Linked DNA regions of Homo sapiens: region 2 is linked to region 1. The links come from fine-mapping of genetic effects on gene expression. A gene starts in region 1. The other region holds a variant in brackets. All regions are shown on one strand. Distances are between the middles of the regions.

The links. PIP is the estimated chance that this variant, and not a neighbour inherited with it, causes the effect.
Region 2: its variant is fine-mapped to the expression of ATP6V1E1 in whole blood (INTERVAL, PIP above 0.99).

What each region holds. Positions count from the first base shown.
Region 1 is chr22:17,625,644-17,630,977 of GRCh38, reverse strand. ATP6V1E1 (ATPase H+ transporting V1 subunit E1) reads left to right here and starts at 2,229. Exons shown (of 9, transcript NM_001696.4): 1 at 2,229-2,375. The coding sequence starts at 2,343. It also overlaps a transcript of BCL2L13 not described here. RefSeq lists enhancers at 2,104-2,273, 2,215-2,304, 2,385-2,534.
Region 2 is chr22:17,591,913-17,597,221 of GRCh38, reverse strand. ATP6V1E1 (ATPase H+ transporting V1 subunit E1) reads left to right here. Exons shown (of 9, transcript NM_001696.4): 8 at 2,606-2,693; 9 at 4,486-5,086. The coding sequence ends at 4,548. Among named protein-coding and RNA genes, the nearest start is that of SLC25A18, 31 kb to the right of the region's middle. The variant A/G (reference allele first, on the strand shown) is at 2,348.

The DNA.
Region 1 (5,334 bases):
GATCCAATCCAGGTTATAAAGGTTATAAAGTAAGGTTATAAGAAGGTTATAAAAGGTTAAAAAGTAAGGTTATTAAAAAAAGGTTATGGCTGGGCGCGGTGGCTCACGTCTGTAATCCCAGCACTTTGGGAGGTGGAGGCAGGCAGATCACCTGAGGTCGGGAGTTCAAGACCACCCTGGCCAATGTGTTGAAACCCCATCTCTACTAAAAATGCAAAAATTAGCTGGGCGTGGTGGCAGATGCCTGTAATCTCAGCTACTGGGGAGGCTGAGGCAGGAGAATCAATTGAACCCGGGAGGCGGAGGTTGTGGTGAGCCGAGATTCTGCCACTGCACTCTAGCCTGGGCAACAGAGCGAGACTCCATCTCAAAAAAAAAAAAAAAAAGAAAAGAAAAAGAAGGCCGGGTGCAGTGGCTCACACCTGTAATCCCAGCACTCTCGGAGGCCGAGGCAGGTGGATCACGAGGTCAGCAGTTCAAGACCAGCCTGGCCAACACAGTGAAACCTCATCTCTACTAAAAATACAAAAATTAGCCATGCATGGTGGCAGGCACCTGTAATCCCAGCTGCTTGGGAGGCTGAGGGAGGAGAATCACTTGATCCCGGGAGGCAGAGGTTGTAGTGAGCTGACACCATGCCGTTGCACTGCAGCCTGGGCGACAGAGTGAGACTCTGTCTCAAAAAAAAAAGAAAGGGTTATAAAGTACATTGATGGATTGATGGGACAAAGGAATTTGTTTTTTTTTTTTTTGTTTTTTTGAGACGGAGTCTCACTCTTATTGCCCAGGCTGGAGTGCAGTGGCACGATCTTGGCTCACCGCAACCTCTGCTCCTGGGTTGAAGCAATTCTCCTGCCTCAGCCTCTCCAGTGGCTGGGATTACAGGCACACACCACCACGCCTGTTAATTTTGTATTTTTAGTAGAGACTGGGGTTTCTCCATGTTGGTCAGGCTGGTCTCGAAATCCCGACCTCAGGTGATCTGCCCACCTCAGCCTCCCAAAGTGGTGGGATTACAGGCGTGAGACACCGCGCCTGGCCCGGGACAAAGGAAATTAATGTTCAGCCTAGTAAACTAAATTTCCTGAATTTGCTACATCCTCGTTCTTATGACACACTAAAATAGGAAGTGTGTGTGTGTGTGTGTGTGTGTGTGTGTATGAAAATAAAGTGTTAATGTACATGTAGCAAAATGTTAACAATTGTTGAATCTAGGTGAAGGGAGGTCAATGCAGTATTCTTACAAGTTACTATATCTCAAATTTCTTCAAGATAAAAAGCTAATAAAAATGGTGGGTAACCATAGCACAGTAAAAAGAAAAAAGTGGGTGTACCATTTGACCTCTTATTCTACTATTAGGAGTCAGTCTATCCTAAAGATAAAGGAATTTTCAAAAGTTTTTGCCTTTGGGATTTTGGGGAAAAAAACGGGCTTGAGGTAAATCCAAATAAAAACAAATGAGCCTGGGGGGATTTCTGTCCTAATATTCCTCTAAATGGGACCTGGGAAGGCTTTTGAAAAATATATAGGCTATCTCAGAAAAGTTCCAAATAAATTATGTAGCTGCTCCACCCTAATAAGGAAGTTGAGCATAGCTTCCCACTCCCTAGGTGTGGGCTTTGTATAGTGGCTTCCTTCCTAAGACTACAGTATGGAAAGGGGGTTAAAAAAGGTAACTTCAGAGTGGAGAAACCTACAAACCCTACACTTTATTCAGGTAATCAAGGTTGACATGAATAGTCAGAAATCATGTATCCCCCTTTTTTTTTTCTTTTGGTAGAGACGGGGTTCCTCTATGTTGTCCAGCCTGGTCTCGAACTTGAGGTCAAGCGATACACCCGCCTTGGTCTCCCAAAGTCTCCGGATTGCAGGCGTGAGCCACCACGCCCGGCCAACAATCATGTACCCCTAAGCCCATAACCCTGTGTAATTATGCGAAAAATTCCAATAAAGGCACATTCTCCAATATACCTAACCAGTACTCCTCAAAACAGCCCGACTAATTTCAGATAGAGGAACTCCTTATCTTTTCTTCCTCCTACCCAAGATCCCAGTTTAGGAAAAAAATACCGGTCAGGTCACGAGTCAGCGACGTAGAAGGACCCGAGGACGCGCCCACAGGCCGGGACAGGGCGGGACTTCCTGGGCGTCGCTCTCTTCCCATTGGCTGAGAAGGGTCATGAGGATGAACTGTGCAGTCACCTGGCAGGAACCGGAACCCGCGGTTATAAAGTAAAGGAACCCGAGATCTGCGCAGGGGTTCCCTTTGCCGATTTCTCTCACCTCACCTTTCAAACCTAAACTCGAGCCTACTGTTCACCGGCCTAGCATTGCTCTCGCCATGGCTCTCAGCGATGCTGACGTGCAAAAGCAGGTGAGGGGCTTGGTTGGGTCTTACGAAGCCGCGGCGGCAGTCCCGGGGAGTGGGCTGGAGCCCGCCTAGGGAAGGCCGCGGGCCTTGAGCCGCCCAGATGCCGCAGGAAGGTCCCTTGCTCCAAGTCACCAGATCCAAGAGGTCGGCCTGAGGACGGAGATTTGCCCCGCAGCTCATGTGACTTTTGCTCGGGTCTTGGGCACTGCCCGCTTGCCTGCGCGCTGCCTTCTTGAACGCCCTGGCTCTTTGCCTCCCACCTCAGCATTCCCTGTTTTCCAAGGGTATTCACTGTGCCTAGTCGGACAGAGATCTGTGCAAGGATTGAAAACAGCCTTGTGGCCAGGGGCAGTGGCTCACGCCTGTAATCCCAGTATTTTGGGAGGCCGAGGCGGCCGGATCACCTGAGGTCAGGAGTCCGAGACTAGCCTGGCCAAAATGGTGAAACCCCGGTCTCTACTAAAAATAGAAAATTAGCCGGACGTGGTGGCGCGCGCCTGTAATCCCAGCTACTCGGGAAGCTGAACCCGGAGGCGGAGGTTGCAGTTAGCCGAGATCGCGCCTTTGCACTCCAGCATGGGCGACAGGGCGAGACTCCCTCTGGAAAAAGAAAAAAAAAAAACAAACCAGCCTTGTCACTTTTTTTTTTTTTAACCCTGAGGGAAATGCTTAAGGCTATATGATAGGAAACAGTGCGGAGGGAAGAGACCTGCTTCCAACCAGTGTTTTGACAAGGTCGTTCACTTTATGAACTGTGTTTTTTTCTTTTTTTCTTTTTTTTTTTTTTGAGACGGAGTCTCACTCTGTCGCCCAGGCTGGAGTGCAAGGGCGCGATCTCGGCTCACTGCAACCTCCGCCCCGGGTTCAAGTGATTCTCCTGCCTCAGCCTCCCTAGAAGCTGGGATTACAGACTCGCGCCCCAAGCCCGGCTAATTTTTGTATTTTTTTTAGTAGAGGCAGGGTCTCACCATATTGGCCTGGCTGGTCTTGAACTCCTGACCTCAGGTGATCTTCCCACCTGGGCCTCCCAAAGTGCTGGGATTACAGGCATGAGCCAACGCGCCAGGCCTGTATGTACTGTTAATCTTCATTTTGGGGAAGTCCCCTCTATCATAATGGATTGTAATGATTGGTCTCCCACTAATGTGTGTGTTAACATTTGTGAGATACAGGCTGGGGCCGGGCATGGTGGCTCACGTCTGTAATACCAGCACTTTGGGAGGCTGAGGAGGGCGGATCACCTGAGGTCAGGAGTTCGAGACGAGCCTGGCCAGCATGGTGAAACCCCATCTCTATTAAAAATACAAAAAATTAGCCGGGCATGGTGGCGGGCGCCTGTAGTCCCAGCTACTCGGGAGGCTGAGGCAGGAGAATGGCGTGAACCCGGGAGGCCGAGCGACCCTGGGCGGCAGAGCGAGACTCCCTCTCAAAAAAATAAAAAAAAAAAGATTGTCTGGGCCTAGTGGGGTGCGCCTGTAGTCCCAGCTACTCAGGAGGCAGAGGCAGGAGAATCGCTTGAACCCGGCAGGCGGAGGTTGCAGTGAGCCAAGATTGTGCCACTGCACTCCAGCCTGGGTGACAGAGTGAGACTCCATCTCAAAAAATTTTAATATTAATAAACACAAATACACGCCAGGTGTGGTGGCTCACACCTGTAGCCCCCAGCACTTTGGGAGGCTGAGGTGGGAGGATCGCTTGATCCCAGGAGTTCAAGACCAGCCTGGGCAACATAGACCTTATCTCTAAAAAATTTTTTCTTAAAAAATAAGCCAGGCTGTCTGGGCATGGTTGCTCATGCCTGTAATCCCAGCACTTTGGAAGGCCGAGGTGGGCATATCACCTGCGGTCAGGAGTTCCAGACCAGCCTGGCCAACGTGGCAAAACCCTGTCTCTACTAAAAATACAAAATTAGTGGGGCGTGCTGGCATATGCCTGTAATCCCAACTACTAGGAGGCTGAGGCAGGAGAATTTCTTGAACCCGGGAGGTGGAGGTTATGGTGAGGCGAGATCACACCATTGCTGCCTGGGCAACAGAGCGAGACTGTCTCAAAAAAAAAAAAAAATTGCCAGGTGTGGTGGGGCACACATGTGCTCCTAGCTACTTAGGGAGGCTGATGTGGGAGAATCATTTGAGCCCAAGGGGTCGAGGCTGCAGTGAGCTATGATCATGCCACTGTGCTCCATCCTGGGTGAGAGAGCAAAAGACCCTGTCTCTAAAAATATTAAATAAATAAACAAAATTGTGTCAAATGGAAGACCGCTTTTTCTTTTCTTTCTTTTTTTTTTTTTTTTTTTTTGAGACGAAGTCTCGCTCTGTTGCCCAGGCTGGAGTGCAGTGGCATGGTCTCCGCTCACTGCAAGCTCCACCTCCTGGGTTCATGCCATTCTCCTGCCCCAGCCTCCCGAGAAGCTGGGACTTACAGGCGCCCGCCACCACGCCTGGCTAATTTTTTCTATTTTTTATTAGAGATGGGGTTTCACTGTATTAGCCAGGATGGTCTTGATCTCCTGACCTCGTAATCTGCCCACCTCGGCCTCCCAAAGTGCTGGGATTACAGGCATGAGCTACCGCGCCTGGCCAGGACCCCTTTTGCTTACATTTAGGAGCCTCAATGCCTAACGGTGTTTGGCACCAAGTAGATGTATCAGAGTTTATGGGAAAAAATTGTTGTGGAAGTCGTGAACCCACATCAGTTTTCAAAGTGTAATCAGTCCTGGGAAACTTTTTTTTTTTTTTTAAGTGCCATACCTTCAAGTCTGTAGGTATTAAGAATTTTGTCATGCAAAAGACTCTCAGGGGAATATAGTAGCAGTTTATAAGCCTATAACTAACAAATCAGAATCCTTGCATTTAGTAATCATATTGCCGATAGATTTTTCAGAGAAGGAAGTTTAAGGCTGCAGTTTTAATTTGCACATAGTTTAGAGAACTAAGTCCTTTTTTTTCTGAAGTACTGTGCT
Region 2 (5,309 bases), 34 kb after region 1:
CACCCAGGCTGGAGTACAGTGGCATGATCTTGGCTCACTGCAACCTCTGCCTCCCAGGTTCAAGCGATTTTCCTGCCTTAGCCTCCTGAGTAGCTGGGACTACAGGCGCCTGCCACCACGCCCAGCTAATTTTTTTGTATTTTTAGTAGAGATGGGGTTTCACTGTGTTAGCCAGGATGGTCTCGATCTCCTGACCTCGTGATCTGCCCGCTCGGCCTCCCAAAGTGCTGGGATTACAGGCGTGAGCCACCATGCCTGGTGCCTTGGACACATTTTGAAGTTAGCTGATTATCACACTTAGGAATGTAAGACCTAGATTTGAGTCCTATCTTGGCCTTTTGCTACTATGGGACCTGGAGACTGAATTCATCATATGTAAAATAGGATCATTGCTTTTTGCTTTTTTGTTTCATGCAGTGAAGAAAAAAAGATGAGATAGTACATGTGAAAATGCTCTGTAAATGGAAAAAGTATATAAACTCATAAGATATGCTGTCAGAGTTGGGTTAGATTCCTGATTCTGCCACTTACTACCTGGGTAATCTTGGACTCGTTTATTCAGTTTCATTGAGTGGTGTCGTCCATTTAGTGTTGCTATAACAGAATACCCGAGGCTGGGTAATTCATGGAGAAAAGAGGTTTATTTGGTTCATGATTCTCATGGCTGGAAAGTTCAAGATTGGACAGCTGCATCTGGTGAGGGCCTCAGGCTGCTTCCACTCATGGCAGAAGGTGGAAGGGGAGTGGGTGTGTGCATAGAGACCACATGGCGAGAGAGGAGGCCAGAGAGCCTAGGGAACCAGACTCCCTATCATACCAGCCCACCCTCTGCTCACAGTCGAGTCCTGCCGGAGCTAGAATCCAGGCCCTCGCCACAGTTCATTGCCTCGGGATCTGCCCTTGAGCCCTGAACACCTCCTACTATGCTCCACCTCCCAACACTGCCACATTGAGAATCAAATTTCACCATTAGTTTCTGAGGGAACAGACTCAAACCATAGTAGTGAGCCCTGATTCCCTTATCTGTAAATTGACGTATTAGCACTAACCTCATAGCATTTTTTATCTTATTTATTTATTTATTTATTTTTTGAGACAGAGTCTCACTCTCACCCAGGCTGGAGTGCAGTGGCACGACCTCGGCTCACTGCAAGCTCCACCTCCCAGGTTCACACCATTCTCCTGCCTTAGCCTCCCGATTAGCTGGGACTACAGGCACCCGCCACCATGCCTCGCTAATTTTTTTTGTATTTTTAGTAGAGACGGGGTTTCACCTTGTTAGCCAGGATTGTCTCAATCTCCTGATGTCGTGATCTGCCCACCTCGGCCTCTCAAAGAGCTGGGATTACAGGCGTGAGCCACCGCACCCAGCCTCTTTTTTTGTTGTTGTTGTTGTATTTTGAGTAAGGGTCTCTTTCTGTCACCCAAGCTGGAGTGCAGTGGTGTGATCTCGGCTTGCTGCAACCTCTGCCTCCTGGGTTCAAGCAATTCTCCTGCCTCAGTCTCTCAAGTAGCTGGGACTACAGGCACGCCCCACCATGCCCAGCTAATTTTTGTATTTTTAGTGGAGACAGGCTTTCGCCATGTTGGCCAGGCTGGCCTCAAACTTGAGTTTGGGAGCACCTCGGCCTCCCAAAGTGCTGGGATTACAGGGGTGAGCTACCACGCCCGGCCAGCAGTGGCATCTTTTATCAGACACACATGCAGTCGTGATAGGGCCTCATCAGTAATGAGCAGGATTGGGCTTAAGAAAACATTCAGATGAGGATTGAGTGATTTGCAAACTGAGATGAAATCCTCTCTTTTTCATTTTGTTGGGGAGGGCTGGCTGTGATAATTAAAACAGGTTTTGTAACATAAAATCAAATTGACACAGGCTGGGCGCGGTGACTCACTCCTGTAATCCCAACACTTGTGGAGGCAGAGGTGGGCGGATCACCTGAGGTCAGGAGTTCAAGACCAGCCTGGCCAACATGGTGAAACCCCGTCTCTACAACAATACAAAAATTAGCCAGGCGTGATGGCAGGTGCCTGTAATCCCAGCTACTGGGGAGGCTGACGCAGGAGAATTGCTTGAACTCGGGAGGCAGAGGTTGCAGTGAGCCAAGATCGCACCATTGCACTCCTGCCTGGGCAACAGAGCGAGTCTCAAAAAAAACAAAACAAATTGACACATAGTGTCACTTGGTAAATGACAGTTATTGAGATGAATACAGTCAGTTCTCTGTATCTTTGGGGTCCACACCTGTGAATTCAACCAACTTTTTCTTTTCACTCCCTAAACACTACGGTATAACAACCATTTACATCGTATTAGCTATTTTAAGTGCTGTAGACATGATTTGCA[A/G]TATAGGGGAGGATGTGTGATGGTTGTATGCAAATACTACGCTGTTTCATATAATGGACATCTAGGCGGGGACTGGGGTTTCCTGAAACCAACTGTGCGTTACATCTTCAGAAGCTTTTTCAGTTCCTTTCAAGCCTGTTGCTTAGGTTGCGCAGTCTACACACCAAGACAAGGGCATTCCTCTGCGGGAGTAAAGGGTACCATGTATCTTTCTCAAGTCTTTGAAAATGATTATTTCCTGTGCTTTTTTTTTTGCAGAGCTGGTGGAGTTGAGATCTATAATGGAGATCGTAAAATAAAGGTTTCCAACACCCTGGAAAGCCGGCTGGATCTCATAGCCCAGCAGGTGAGTGTGGGGGTACTTCTTGGTAGTTGGTCTGCTGTTACTTTGAAGTGGGACAGAGAACACGTGTCCATTCACTGGTATTTGGGATTTGTTGCTGTCTTTCCAGTTTTGGACATTTTCTCAAAAAGAATGAGAATTGGGCATGTAGTAGCATTTGCTGAGGTGGTAACATTTACATGAGGGTGAATTTGGGGTCAGAACAAGTGTTTTGTTGACCTAGGATTCGAATATGTACATTTTACTACATGTAAGGTGCTGACAAGTTCTTTCTCTAACAGGAGTGATGGGAACTAAAGCAAATACTTGTGTTTTTTTGTTTTGTTTTGCTTTTTTGAGATGGAGTTTCACTCTTTTTTGCGCAGGCTGGAGTGCAGTCTTGGCTCACTGCAACTTCCACCTCCCAGGTTCAAGCGATTCTCCTGCTTCAGCCTCCCGAGTAGCTGGGATTACAGGCACCTGCCACCACACCCGGCTAATTTTGTATTTTTAGTAGAGACGGGGTTTCACCATGTTGGCCAGGCTGTTATCAAATTCCTGACCTCAGGTGATCCACCCGCCTTGGCCTCCCAAAGTGCTGGGATTACAGGTGTGAGCCACCGTGCTCAGACACAAATACTTATTTAAAGGAATTATCATAAAGCTGCTGGCTTTTCAGATGTTTCCAGATTTGTACACAGGAACTCTAGGAAACAAGCCAGGAAAATTCCATTTGTTCTAAAATGCTGGGCATCTTCTAGACTTCTAGTGGGAGTCTATTGCTGTGGCTGCCAACCTAGTTATTCCCTGACCTAGATATGCAGTTTACTGTTTATGCAGATACTTGTCTTATAACTAAAGCACTTTCACCTTGATTTTTTCATATTCTGGTAACTTAAACCTCAGAACATTGTTTCCTAGTAGCCACTGTCCCATCCAGTATCATAGCCACTACTCACTTACGGATATTTAATTAAACCGAAAAATTCAGTTTCTCAGCACACAATAACCATCTGTAGCTAGGACTGCCCTGTTGGACAGCCGAGCCTTGGAAGTCCAGGGTTAAGTTCTCCTAAGGATTCATCAGTGGCTGTAGCAAGTGCTTCCAGCCTAAGCTGGCATTGGAAGTGTTCTTTGCAGCTGCTGTGGCCATAGTAGGCACTCAGTAAATGTTTGTTGAAGAAAGAGTGTAGGTGACCCAGCATATTGTGGTGAGATGATTATGATGAGTTAAGTCTGAGATAGTAGTGACTTTAGGTTTTTTTTTGTTTTGTTTTTTTTTAATGTGTCCCTTTTGTAAGCAGTCTGAACCCCAGATTTGGGATGAGTTAAGTTTCTCACCAAGGAATGTGTTACTTGCTTCAGGGAAGGAGAGGGTGGCTTTGATGTGCGTGGCTTTGTGAGTCCTTCCCAGCCACATAGAGGTTCATGGCTTTCCACCTGTGGTTAAGATGTGCAGCACTCTGGCCAGGCTTGGTGGCTCACGCCTGTAATCCCAGCACTGTGGGAGGCCGAGGCGGGTGGATCACGAGGTCAGGAGATCGAGACCATCCCGGCTAACATGGTGAAACCCCGTCTCTACTAAAAATACAAAAAAATTAGCCAGGCATGGTGGCAAGCACCTGTAGTCCCATCTACTTGGGAGGCTGAGGCAGGAGAATGGCGTGAGCTTGCAATGAGCGGAGATGCGCCACTGCACTCCAGCCTGGGCGACAGAGCGAGACTCCGTCTCAAAAAAAAAAAAAAAAAAAAGATGTGCAGCGCTCTACAACTTCTTCAGCTGACATTGCGTATTTATTACACTTTCTCTCCACAGATGATGCCAGAAGTCCGGGGAGCCTTGTTTGGTGCAAATGCCAACAGGAAGTTTTTGGACTAAGCCTTCAGGAGGTGGAGCTCGTCGTCAGCTCTCCTGCTGTGATGTGGAAGCTTCTGATATTTGAAGAAACACGAATGTCTCTGTAGCTTCCTCTTCACTGCCCCAGTATTGCTCTGTATTTATCAGCGATGCCCCTCTGTCACTCATGCCTTGCCTAATTGTTCACAATGGTGGAAAGCTTCATGTAATATGATCAGGACCCACCTCCAGTTCTTCTGAAAGTGTGACAGTGTCCAGCCGGTTCTGCAGCACTAGGGGAGGGGGCAGATGGTGGTTGCATGGGCTTCCTGGGTCTCCACTCTCCGTCTGGCCTAAAGGTGATGTATTTGGTGTTTGGCCCTGCAGTCCCCACTCTTGAGGCTTAAGGCGCATGTGGCACACCACTCCTTCCAGCAGTAGTCGCTTTACTGTTACCTGTTTAGGCCTAGAAGTTTTCCCTCATCTGTAAATGTGATTTAAAATCTAAGCCATGAATATGCTTTATTTATTAAAAGAGTTATGCGGATTTAATGTGATTTCTAGTGTAAGGCACTACAAATTTAGGTTTTGACAGAGTCAAATTCTTACTGAGGCACCTAGAAAAGAAGTATTTTCCCAATCCCCGTGGCACTTGATGGTGACAGCTGTCAGCACCTGGACCCGTTAACCCTCTGGGGGTCCCCTGGGCTGTTGCCCGTTGTTCCCAGCCCATCACCAGGAGCATTCTTTCCACCCTTGCAATCTTCCACACACCCCACATGGCTCTTCAGCGTGACGTGCAC